Linked DNA regions of Homo sapiens. The protein of the gene in region 3 interacts with the protein of the main gene of each other region in a pairwise test. Each region holds a gene or a part of one and is shown on either strand. Other genes may lie near its edges.

Region 1 (3,751 bases), on a different chromosome or scaffold from region 3:
AGCTCACATGTGTTTGCTTCTAAAGCCACTGGGGCACACTGATTTTTACAAAAGGAGTTTAAAAAAATACAAAGTGTTTTCTTCCTTCTCTTCTCCAAACATTTGAGTATGATCCAATTTACAAAGAGTATGCATTTACAAAACCTTTCAAAAGCAGAGCTATTGGAAAAGGTGAGTTATTCTATACATTTATGTTGGAAGTATGCAGCTATTTGCTACCTGGAAGTACTGCTCGCCCATTAGGTCTTTAACAAGCATTCCGGATCTTGCCAATTCTAGTATTCAGTCGTGGGTGGAATCTGGGATTAAGGAATTTGCTTCTGAGTTTCATCTTCAGAGAAACACAGCCTCCACTGCCATCCATTCTAACCCTCTACCATCTCATCTGAAAATCTGACTTAAAACACCCACAGATGCAAAAGCCTGCAGGCAGCCCCTTCCTCCCAAATGCTCTTCCTTAAAGGATAGTTAGGGAGGGGTCCCTGGCTATCATCTGCAGATTGCAAACTCTTGCAATGCAACAGGTTGTCCTCTCCTAGAAAAGAAGGTGCAAGTACTCCCAAGCTATTTGTAGCCAAATAACCTTTCAGAACTTTACACTGTGAGCCGCACGGTTCGCATTTGCTACTGTGATACCGAAGGCATGAAATCGCATCAACCCAAATCCGTGGCATCACTTAGCCGGGTTTGGGGCCTCATCACACGTACCCCTCCTCTACTGCTAAGGCCAAGGTTGTCTTGGGAAGGTTTGGGACTTACCAAGAAAGGGCTCAAGCCAGAGGAGGCTCCTGCGCGGTTACACGTGAGCCTGCTCCGCTCTCCCCTCCCACCAGAAAAAGTGCACCGGGAAAGTGTCAACGCTGGAGGCGTGCACGGCTTCCCGCCGAGAGACCACTCCCCCCACCGGCCCCAGCCCCCACCCCGCTTTCTCAGCTACCCTTCACCAGAAGAAAACGAGTCTTCTCTCACACCTCGTGAGTTCCAAATACTAACCAGTAACAGAAGCTGTAACACAACCCCAAAACCCAGGCTACGCAGTGAAACCCCCTCCCTCAAGCCGACCCCCGCCCCCTGCCCCGCACAGAACCAGGCCCCAGGGTTTCTCCTCCCCAGCCCGGGAGGCTCTGCCCTCCGCAGGCGGGCTCGCTCTGCGTGCGGGTGTGCCTCGTTCTAGGGAACGATCCTGACCTGTCAAGTTACACCTCCCACCCGCGCCGCAGGAGCGGGACCCAGGGAGGCCGGGTGCCCGAAGCTCTTTTAAATGTAGCTCAGGAGGGGTCCCTCCCCTTTCATGGAGGAGGAGGAAGGGGAGGAAGGGTGCTGGGTGAGCTCCTCAATTTCATCAGCGCGGGGCCGGGGCGCCGCGGGACAGGGCGGGAGCGGGGTTGGGGGATGCTCCAGCGGGCGTGCCCGGCCGCGGAGGGGGACCCCCGGAGCGTCGTCCCTTCCCGGAGCGGGGCCGCGGCAGCGCTCACCGTCTTCGTGGTGAAGGGGGAGCTTCAGCGGGTTCTCCAGCAGGGACCTGAGCACGCCGTAGGGAGGCGGGATAAAGGTGGGATTCAGGGGGAGCGGTCGGGACATTTTCTCCATCGCGATGCACTCAAATTTTTTCCCCTTAAAAAAAGAAATAAGAAAGAAACAACCGCCCCCTAAAATGTTGCTGAGCTTTTCCTCCGTCCTTTGCCAAAAGTACTCGCTCTCAAGGCGGTGGAGAAAAGGGAAGAAAAAAATTACTTATATCTTTATAAATACATCTGCATAAAAATATATATTAAAAAAAAACTTTCGGGTTTCCAGTGCAGACGGTCCCAGGAGAGCGCGCCAAGTGCCCGCGGGCTCCCCGGCGACGTGCAGGATGCTCTCACCTGCCTCGAACCCCTCGTTTTGCAAAATGTTCAAAATTGAAAAAAAGAAAGAAAAAAAAATGTCGACGGCTGCAGAAGGGCAGAAGACACCGCGCCGACCCCAGCCCCTAGTGCCAGCACCGGAGGCGGTGCGCCGTCCCACCCCACCCCCCTCCCCGCGCCGGCGGCCGCTGCTCCCCAGCGCTCCGCGGCCCCGCAGCGCCGGGCTCAGCGCATCCGGCCGCCCATGTGCCGCGGCCCTGACAAGAGTGACGTCAGGGCCCGCACCTCGCGCCCATAGGCGTGCGGGGGCGGGGCCACGCGCGGCACCGCCCGCCTGGCCCGCTCGCCCCGCCGCCGCGTGTTTAGCGTCGCCGCTCGCGCCGATTTTCGGGGACCTTGCAGCACTGGCTGGTTGCAGGGGAGCAGGTGCCAGATTCCCTGGGCCATCAACTTAGGCTTAGATTTTTTTTTTTTTTTTTGGTCTGGGTGGGAAGAGGAATGAGAAATTTATATCCATAGTTTTCAAGCTGGGAATAACCTGAGGAGTTTTAAAAAAATCGCGATACCCAGGCCGCATCCCAGATCAATTAGATCAGAACCTCTGCGGTGCTATCAGGGCGTCCATAATTTTTAAAGCTCCCCAGGTGGTTCCAAAGAGTAGCCAAGTTTGAGATGATTGGTTTAGATCGGATGGAAGGTAACGACCCTTCTCAATATTTCTCCTGGCCCCGGCCAAGCTTAGCGTCTTCTTTCTTGCCCAGTTTCCACCACCACCAAAAAATAACTACTTCCTATAAGTCCGAATGGGATGCAAAAAGCAGAGCGGGAAGCGGAGGACTGAGCTGCTGGGCACTGTTTCCCACGCTGCAGAGAGGTGTTAACGGTGGGGGGAGAGGGGGGGTAGACATTTGCCTGAAACGGAAAGAGGCGGGAGAGACACAGACACACTGAACGGGATTTTAGGAATATTTACTCTGGGTGAATACAGGTGATTGCGCTTGGGTCAAGTTATTAGGTTTGCACGGTGATTAAAATAATTTTGTAAAGTATCCCCTAAGGGGGCTTCGGCTTTCCTTGCTGTTACAGCAGCTGCAGCGTCTCCCTCTGCCAGTTTGACCTCGTGGCACCCACGGTCCCCGAGATCTGCGTGCGACCCCCTGTGTGATAACTCCCTTCCCGCCTGGGGTGGTGCGGGCGCTGGCGTGCAGCCGCGACGCCCCCTGCAGAGCTCCGCGGGGGGCCAGGCAGGTTCTTCCCCTCCCTCCTTACCTCTCCTTACTAAGACCCTAGTCTTCGATCTGGGGAAGGGGCTGCAAGAACGAATGGGCACAAATGAAAGAAAACCGTTTTTCAGTGGGACGTAAAGGCCTTTGTGACCCCAGGCTGAGTCGCTGGGGAAGGATGTGGTGGTGTCTTGATGGGGTTTACTTCCCCAGGAGAGGGTTGTAAGAGAGGAGGCGCCTGAAACCCCAGAGATCAGGAGCGGCGGCGCAGCGGGGTTCAGAGTTCCCTGGCAGGGTGATTCCGGCAAGTGCCTTTCTGCCCTGAGCTGTAGGTTCTTCATAAAAGGACACGTAATCTAGTGACCTCTACTTCCTCACTCTAAAATTATGGCAAAAGGGTAAGGCAACATTCTAAGTGAGATGTTGTTGCAGTGTTTCAGGTTTCAGACGAATTCCAGAAACAGCAAACTTTTAGTTAATGCCACATGCATTTATTGAGCACCACGGTATGTATGCCAGCGACTATGCGGGGGCTAGTGAAAAAAGATGAATAAAACATAATTTTAACCTTCAAGAACTCATCGTTTAGGGTTTGGCATATAAGCAAATAATATAAAATAGGCTTAAAAGAACAAAAATGGATAGATGGAGGTGACAGGGGCACTTACATTATTAGGAAAG
Region 2 (3,390 bases), on a different chromosome or scaffold from region 3:
CTTTTTTTACCATATACCTTAACATTTGGGGGATTTTGATTCCCACAAAAACCTCTATCATTTAAAACCAGATATTCGAATTACAAGGCTAACATTTTTAGCTAATCAACTCTTCAGTGCTGATCCCAGAAAATAGCCTCCAATGGGTCTTTGAGTCATGGAAATGGACAACTTTCAGCCATTGACATGAGTGGTGTCGGTGGTCACACCTTTAACATTCAAGCCACAAGCTCTAAAGTCTGGAAAGGGTGAGGTCTACTGTCCTGCATTGTCGCCATCTGCTGTCGTATTTTCAGTGCTAATGGACTGTACGTTGTCTGCAAGGTTGTGTGCATGCTCAAGAAACAAATCTTTGAGTACACTTAATTCCTTGGTCAGCAATTTGATTTTTGCTTCCAACCGTTCATTCTCTTCTTTGAGCTGATTGACTCTCTGCAGTGTGTCTTGTGCTTTCTGCTTGCTTTTCAACCGGCTCTTTTTCACAGCCATGTTGTTCCTCTCTCGGCGTTGCCGATACTCGTCACTGTTTCGATCCATGGGCGAACTCTTTTTGCTCTGCTTGCTGGGAGCCACAGCTTTGCCTCCTCCCCCAGGGCCAGCAGGCACCAGCTGAGGAACCTGCTGTAAGCCGCTGGCATGTGCCTGGGTATGGATAACACTAATTCCGTTCACCCCTGGAGTGCTGTTTTGCTGCGATATCTTGCTCATTTGGGCACTCTCCCTTGCCAACACAGAACAGGTAGAAATGAGAGCAGGGTGATCAATGGTTTCCACGCTAAGCTGCCAAAAAATCTTCACATGTACCTAGTTAAAAAATAAATTGCATTAAAATATTTGAAATGACAGGATCAAATGAGATCAAACTTGTACGTACCTAACATCAGGCCAACATTAATTGATTCTGCTGAGAAAAGTCTACAGCAACTGCCAACTGTTCCAATGTTTCTGAAGTCTAAATCATTTCACTTAGAAAGGTAAGTAAGCACAGAAGCACCATCAGGCGAAACTCAGCCCACCTGGATCCCTGAGGGCACTGCCCCTCTGCGATTGTTATCAAAAATGGGAGGAAAACAAAAGACTTCCACTAATTAGGTGGCGCATGTGAACTAACAGCACTTGACAATCTCCCAGGGAGGAGCTGCAGCTGACTGTAGTAGGAGAGACACCTGCAATGAAAGGGGGGAAAAGTTTCCATTGTTGGTTCAAGTCAAAACAGAAGGCTGGGGTTGCGCACCCTGTCTCCAGCGCTCTCATGCTATCACCCCTGCGGGTTCCATGTTCTAATATGCAGAGAGGGAGTCATCGAGGACTTGAGTTCTCTCCCAGAGCTCTCTTCATCGGATATTTTGAAAAGGTAGTTTTTTGCTTTATTTTTTTAATGACCTCAAATGATAATTCCACAGTTTAACCAAATTTACTGAGTCAGTTTCTTGAATTTAGGAGCTCTGACACTCAATTTGCTCCCCATCCCACCAAGCTTGTAAAAAGTGTGTTTTTTCTTCTTGACATAATTAGTAAAACTCAAAACACACTCAACCTGAAACCACAAGGAAAGAAACAGAAGCCCTCATGATGCATCCAAGGAAGTGCGGGTCCTGGGACCCAGGCTGGACAAAGGAGCTGAGCAGCTGCCGTGCCTGTGGCCACTTCGTGCTACCAAATGAGCTCGTGTGAGCTCGGAGGACGCACCAGCTCTGAAGCATCCCTGTGCTGCTGCCTGCAGAAATGAAGGCACGGTTTCGAAAAGCAGTCACATGTGGATTACTCTGAATCCAATTAAGTCCCTACAGCTGCCCCAAGAAGTGTAAAAGTGTGACTATCCTATCAACATGAGGCCACTTCAAGACAAACTAAGTTCAGTGAACGGTGTCCACCAAGGAATCAGGGCACTCTTAGAAATTTAGAAAGCAGTGTTAGGAACATAAAACTATCCTGTTCTCTTTTCACAAAACTGCTAAAATCACATCAGTGGAAAAAATCTGGAGTCAGATTTATGCAGTGATCCCACAATGAGGGAAAGCTCAGTTAGCAAACACCAGTAGCTACACCCAAACCTTCAGCCAGGCAATTCTGTACACTGTTTATTGGTCTCTTTTTAAAAAACATCTTTGCTTTGAAAAGTCCATGTGTCATTACTTTCCATTGTTTTCAAAGCCACACAGCCGACTCTGAGCTAGTAGGTCATCTGTTCTCACGCCAACACTAAGGCAAGACAAAAAGCATCCCTCCAAACCATGAGGGCGATCCACTCCAAGCCTATCTTCAGTAATGGACAGTTCACAATTTCCCTTGGTCATCATTAGGTTGCCTCATTTTTCTTCCAGTAGAAAAGTGGCTGTTTAGTATTAATCTGAGCCACATTTAGTGCCACCTAACATTATTATTATCCATTTGGTGTCAAGTGAGAGGTGCTTTACTCAATTTTTAAGAACTTGTTTAACACCTCCCCTGAGACTGTCTTAACAATCATAATCATGTTCACCTTATTTCTCTACTTTTTTTTTAATATACCAATTATATTTTTAGCCTTTAAAGCTCTCTACAGTCAACTTGTCCATGCTCAGAGATAGCAATGATCCAAAGCGGTAGAGACCAGTGACCAGGCCAGTTCTTGTCTTGGCTGTGGCTCCCCCTATTTTAGTTTGGGCAAATCTCTTTTCTTCCATGGCTGTCTGTTCCCCACATGCAAATGAGGGATGTGGAATAGTAAGACACTTTCCTACAGACAACACACCACGACCTTCAGTCACTAACAAACAGCTCTTACTCACTACAGGGTCCACGTTCAGCAACGTTCACGCCTGTTTCCGTATCCAAAGATACAGGAACAGGGAAGGGCTTTTTCACCTCTGCCTGACTCATCTTGCAAGGTACTAGGCTGAACGTGTGTGGTAGGTGAGGTTTTAAAGGTAAGCCCTTTGGCCTGAAAAGAGTATTCACTGAACCTACAAACTGGTGAAAATGTAAGAAAGAGAAACTTGGAGATAATCAAAATAACTCCAAGAATGTTTTGTTTAGTAAGTTCTTTAACCATATAAATAGCTCTTAAAGTGAAGATTAACCAAGTAAAAGGGGATCAAAGAGCTAAGTGATTTTACACTGAAAAGGCCACTCTCATTTACGCTTTGTTCCTCCACACACATTTACTGAACACCTACAACAGGCAAAAAGTGTTTATTTGAAAGCTGGACACTCAGTCCTAAATTCAAGTCTGGCTCCTCTGTGGACAAACACTATTCCAAAGTTCAGGCTACAGGATGCAGGGCGGCGCCTGGCTTCCTTCCATGTGAATCACTCAAGGAGGAAACAGCAGGAAAGCTGAAGAGCAGTGGTTCTCAAAGTGTGGTCCCTGGACCAGCATCATCATCATCCAGGAACTCTTTAGAAATG
Region 3 (3,414 bases):
TTCCTTCAGTCCCCCACCCCCTTTTCTGGACACTTTGAAAGAAGAAGTTGCAAAGGTGTTTTGCATAAAAATGTGGTTTTGGCCCTGGACTCAAAGTTCTTTTTTTTGAGATGGAGTCTGGCTCTGTCGCCCAGGCTGGAGTGCAGTGGCTCGATCTCGGCTCACTGCAAGCTCAAGCTCCCAGGTTCACACCATTCTCCTGCCTCAGCCTCCTGAGTAGCTGGGACCACAGGCGCCCGCCACCACGCCTGGCTAATATTTTGTATTTTTAGTAGAGACGGGGTTTCACCATGTTAGCCAGGATGGTCTCGATCTCCTGACCTCGTGATCTGCCTGCCTCGGCCTCCCAAAGTTCTGGGATTACAGGCGTGAGCCACCGCGCCCGGCCCTGGACTCAGCCTGAAAGCCACCAGCCCCATTGCCACGCTGGTTTCTACATGTGGAATGATGAATTTTTTTTTTTTTTTTTTTTTGAGACAGAGTTTTGCTCTGTCGCCCAGGCTGGAGTGCAATGGCATAATCTCGGCTCACTGCAACCTCTGCCTCCCAGGTTCAAACGATTCTCCTGCCTCAGCCTCCCGAGTAGCTGGGACTACAGGTATGCACAACCATGCCCAGCTAATTTTTGTATTTTTACTAGAGATGGGGTTTCACCATGTTGGTCAGGCTGGTCTCGAACTCCTGACCTCGTGATCCGCCAGCCTTGGCCTCCCAAAGTGCTGGGATTGCAGGCGTGAGCCAATGTGCCTGGCCGGAATGATGGACATTTCTAAAATGTATCATTAGGCCACCCTTCACCTAAATTCTCCAAAGGCTTCAACTCACCTCCAGGAACGGAGTCACTCACTCATTCATTTATTCATTCGTTTGCCACCTTCAGGAGGCTCAAGGAGTAACAATTTCAATTTCATCCCTTCCCTCTTCTCTGCTTTAGTTTTCCCAACAGGATTTAACACCATCTGACATCCTGACCACTCTAGGGACTTTTTGTTTGTGGGTCTGGCTTCCCCAGGAGAATATGAGCCCTGTGGGTGGGGCTGGGGTGGGCGTTTGTCTACTGTGTCTACAGCTCTATATCCAGTGCTTAGAAATGTGCCTGGCACACGGGAGACGCTCAATAAGCATTTCCAGAAGGAAGGAATAAACGGATGCGTGGGTCTCCTAGGCACCATTCTGAGTACCAGTCCTCACTCTCACCTGGTCTACAGGGTGCTGCTCCCCACGCCTGTGCCAGCACTGTGTCATTTGTCCGCAATGCGTTTTCTTACCTTCATCCTCTGGGAAAACGCCCATTTGTCCTTAAGCTCAGGCTTCATCGCCTTTTTTTGTTGTTGTTGTTGTTGTTTTTGAGACAGAGTCTCTCTCTGTCTCCCAGGCTGAAGTGCAGTGGCACGACCTCAGCTCACTGCAACCTCCACCTCCCAGGTTCAAGCAATTCTCCTGCCTCAGCTACTGGGATTGGCTAATTAGCTACCACATCCCTGTAATCCCAGCTACTGGGGCTGCCTAATTAGCTACAATGCTTGGCTAATTTTTGTATTTTTAGTAGAGATGGGGTTTTACCACGTTGGCCAGGCTGGTCTCGAACTCCTGGCCAACAAGTAATCCACCCACCTCAGCCTCCCAAAGTGCTGGGATTATAGGCGTGAGCCACCGCGCCTGGCTCATCTCCTCTTTAGACCACTCAATGCCACTACCTATGTGCTATGGACTCTATTGTGTTCCCTCCAAAATTTATGTGTTGAAGCCATAACCCCCGATGTGATTGCATTTAGAGATAAGGCTCTTAGAAGGTAATTTAGATTAAATGAGGTCCTAGGATAGAGGATCGGGTTCTAATCTGATAGGATTGGTGGCCTTATAAGAAGAGGGAAGGAGGCTGGGAGCGGTGGCTCAAGCCTGTAATCCCAGCACTTTGGGAGGCCGAGGTAGGTGGATCAATTGAGTCCAGGAGTTCAAGACCAGCCTGGGCTACATGGAGAAACTCTGTCTCTACAAAAAATACAAAAGTTAGCCAAGTGTGATGGTGCATGCCTGTAGTCTCAGCTACTCGGGAGACTGAGGTGGAGAGGATCGCTTGAGCCTGGGAAGCTGAGGTTGCAGTGAGCCAGGATCGTGGACTGCACTCTAGCCTGGACAACAGAGTAAGACCCTCTCAAAAAAAAAAAAGGAAGAGGCCAGGCATGGTGGCTCACGCCTGTAATCCCAGCACTTTGGGACGTGGAGGTGGGAGGATTGCTTGAGCCCAGGAGTTCAAGACAAGCCTGGGCAACATAGCAAGACCCCCATCACTATTAAAAAATAAAGAATATGAAGAAATAAAAAAGAAAGAATAAATAAATAATAAATGAATAAAAAATTAAAACAAAAGGAGGGGGCCAGGTGCAGTGGTTCACGCCTGTAATCCCAGCACTTTGGGAGGCTGAGGCGGGCAGATCACTTAAAGCCAGGAGTTTGAGACCAGCCTGGCCAACATGGTGAAACCCCGTCTCTGCTAAAAATACAAAAATTAGGTGGGCGTAGTGGCGCATGCCTGTAATCCTAGCTACTCAGGAGGCTGAGGCAGGAGGATCACTTGAACCCAGGAGGTAGAGGTTGTAGTGAGCCAAGTGGCGCCACTGCACTCCAGTCTGGGCAACAGAGTGAGACTCTGTCTCAAAAATGACAACAACAACAAAAATCCCAAAAAGGAGAGGAAGGGAAAGAGATCACTCTGTCCTCTCACATGCACTGAGAGGCCATGAGCACACAGCGAGAAGGCAGCCACTTACAAGTCAGGAAGAGCACCCTCATCTGGAACTGAATTGGCTGGCACCTTGATCTTGGACTTCCCAGCCTCCAAAACTGTGAGAAATAAATGTCTATTGTTTAAGCCACTGTTTATGGTATTTTCAGATGAGCATGAAGCTCAGTAAAGGAAGCAACTTGCAACTGGGACTGGAAACCCTGCCCATTTTAACCCTGAACCAGAGTTCTCACAGTATGGTCTTGGTCACCTCCTGAATTCTGACCCCCAGGTGATTAATCACAAATCACCGTGCAGGTCCCTGGGCCCACCTGGCCTCATGAGGTGGGACCTGGCAGAGGAAGAATAATCCACTTTTTTTTTTCTATAGACAGGGTCTCAATCTGTTGCCCAGGTTGGATGCAGTGGTACAATCATGGCTCACTGCAGCCTTGAACTTCTGGGCTCAAGCGATCCTCCTGCCTCAGTTTCCTGAGTAGCTGGGACTACAGGTGTGCACCATCACGCCCAGCTAACTATTTTTTAATTTTTGTAGAGACAGAGTCTCACTATATTGCCCAGGCTGGTCTTGAACTCCTGGGCTCAAACAATCCTCCAGCCTCAGCCTCCCAAAGTGCTAGGATTACAGGTGTGAGCCACAGTGCCCAGCCTGGAATCTGCATTTTAAC

Evidence for each region.
Region 1: the proteins of BATF2 (region 3) and HLF come close enough for resonance energy transfer, tested with the Homo sapiens proteins (one large-scale study listed by IntAct).
Region 2: the proteins of BATF2 (region 3) and CEBPG come close enough for resonance energy transfer, tested with the Homo sapiens proteins (one large-scale study listed by BioGRID and IntAct).

The regions. Positions count from the first base shown.
Region 1 is NC_000017.11:55,263,324-55,267,074, reverse strand, and holds the start of HLF (hepatic leukemia factor), read right to left. Parts: upstream 2,116-3,751; 5' UTR 1,591-2,115; coding exon 1,476-1,590; intron 1,232-1,475; exon of another isoform or gene 1,189-1,231; intron 854-1,188; exon of another isoform or gene 760-853; intron 300-759; exon of another isoform or gene 220-299; intron 1-219.
Region 2 is NC_000019.10:33,376,558-33,379,947, reverse strand, and holds part of CEBPG (CCAAT/enhancer-binding protein gamma), read right to left. Parts: intron 805-3,390; 5' UTR 709-804; coding exon 256-708; 3' UTR 1-255. UniProt on the Homo sapiens protein: Transcription factor that binds to the promoter and the enhancer regions of target genes. Binds to the enhancer element PRE-I (positive regulatory element-I) of the IL-4 gene. Binds to the promoter and the enhancer of the immunoglobulin heavy chain.
Region 3 is NC_000011.10:64,990,702-64,994,115, forward strand, and holds part of BATF2 (basic leucine zipper transcriptional factor ATF-like 2), read right to left. Parts: intron 1-3,414.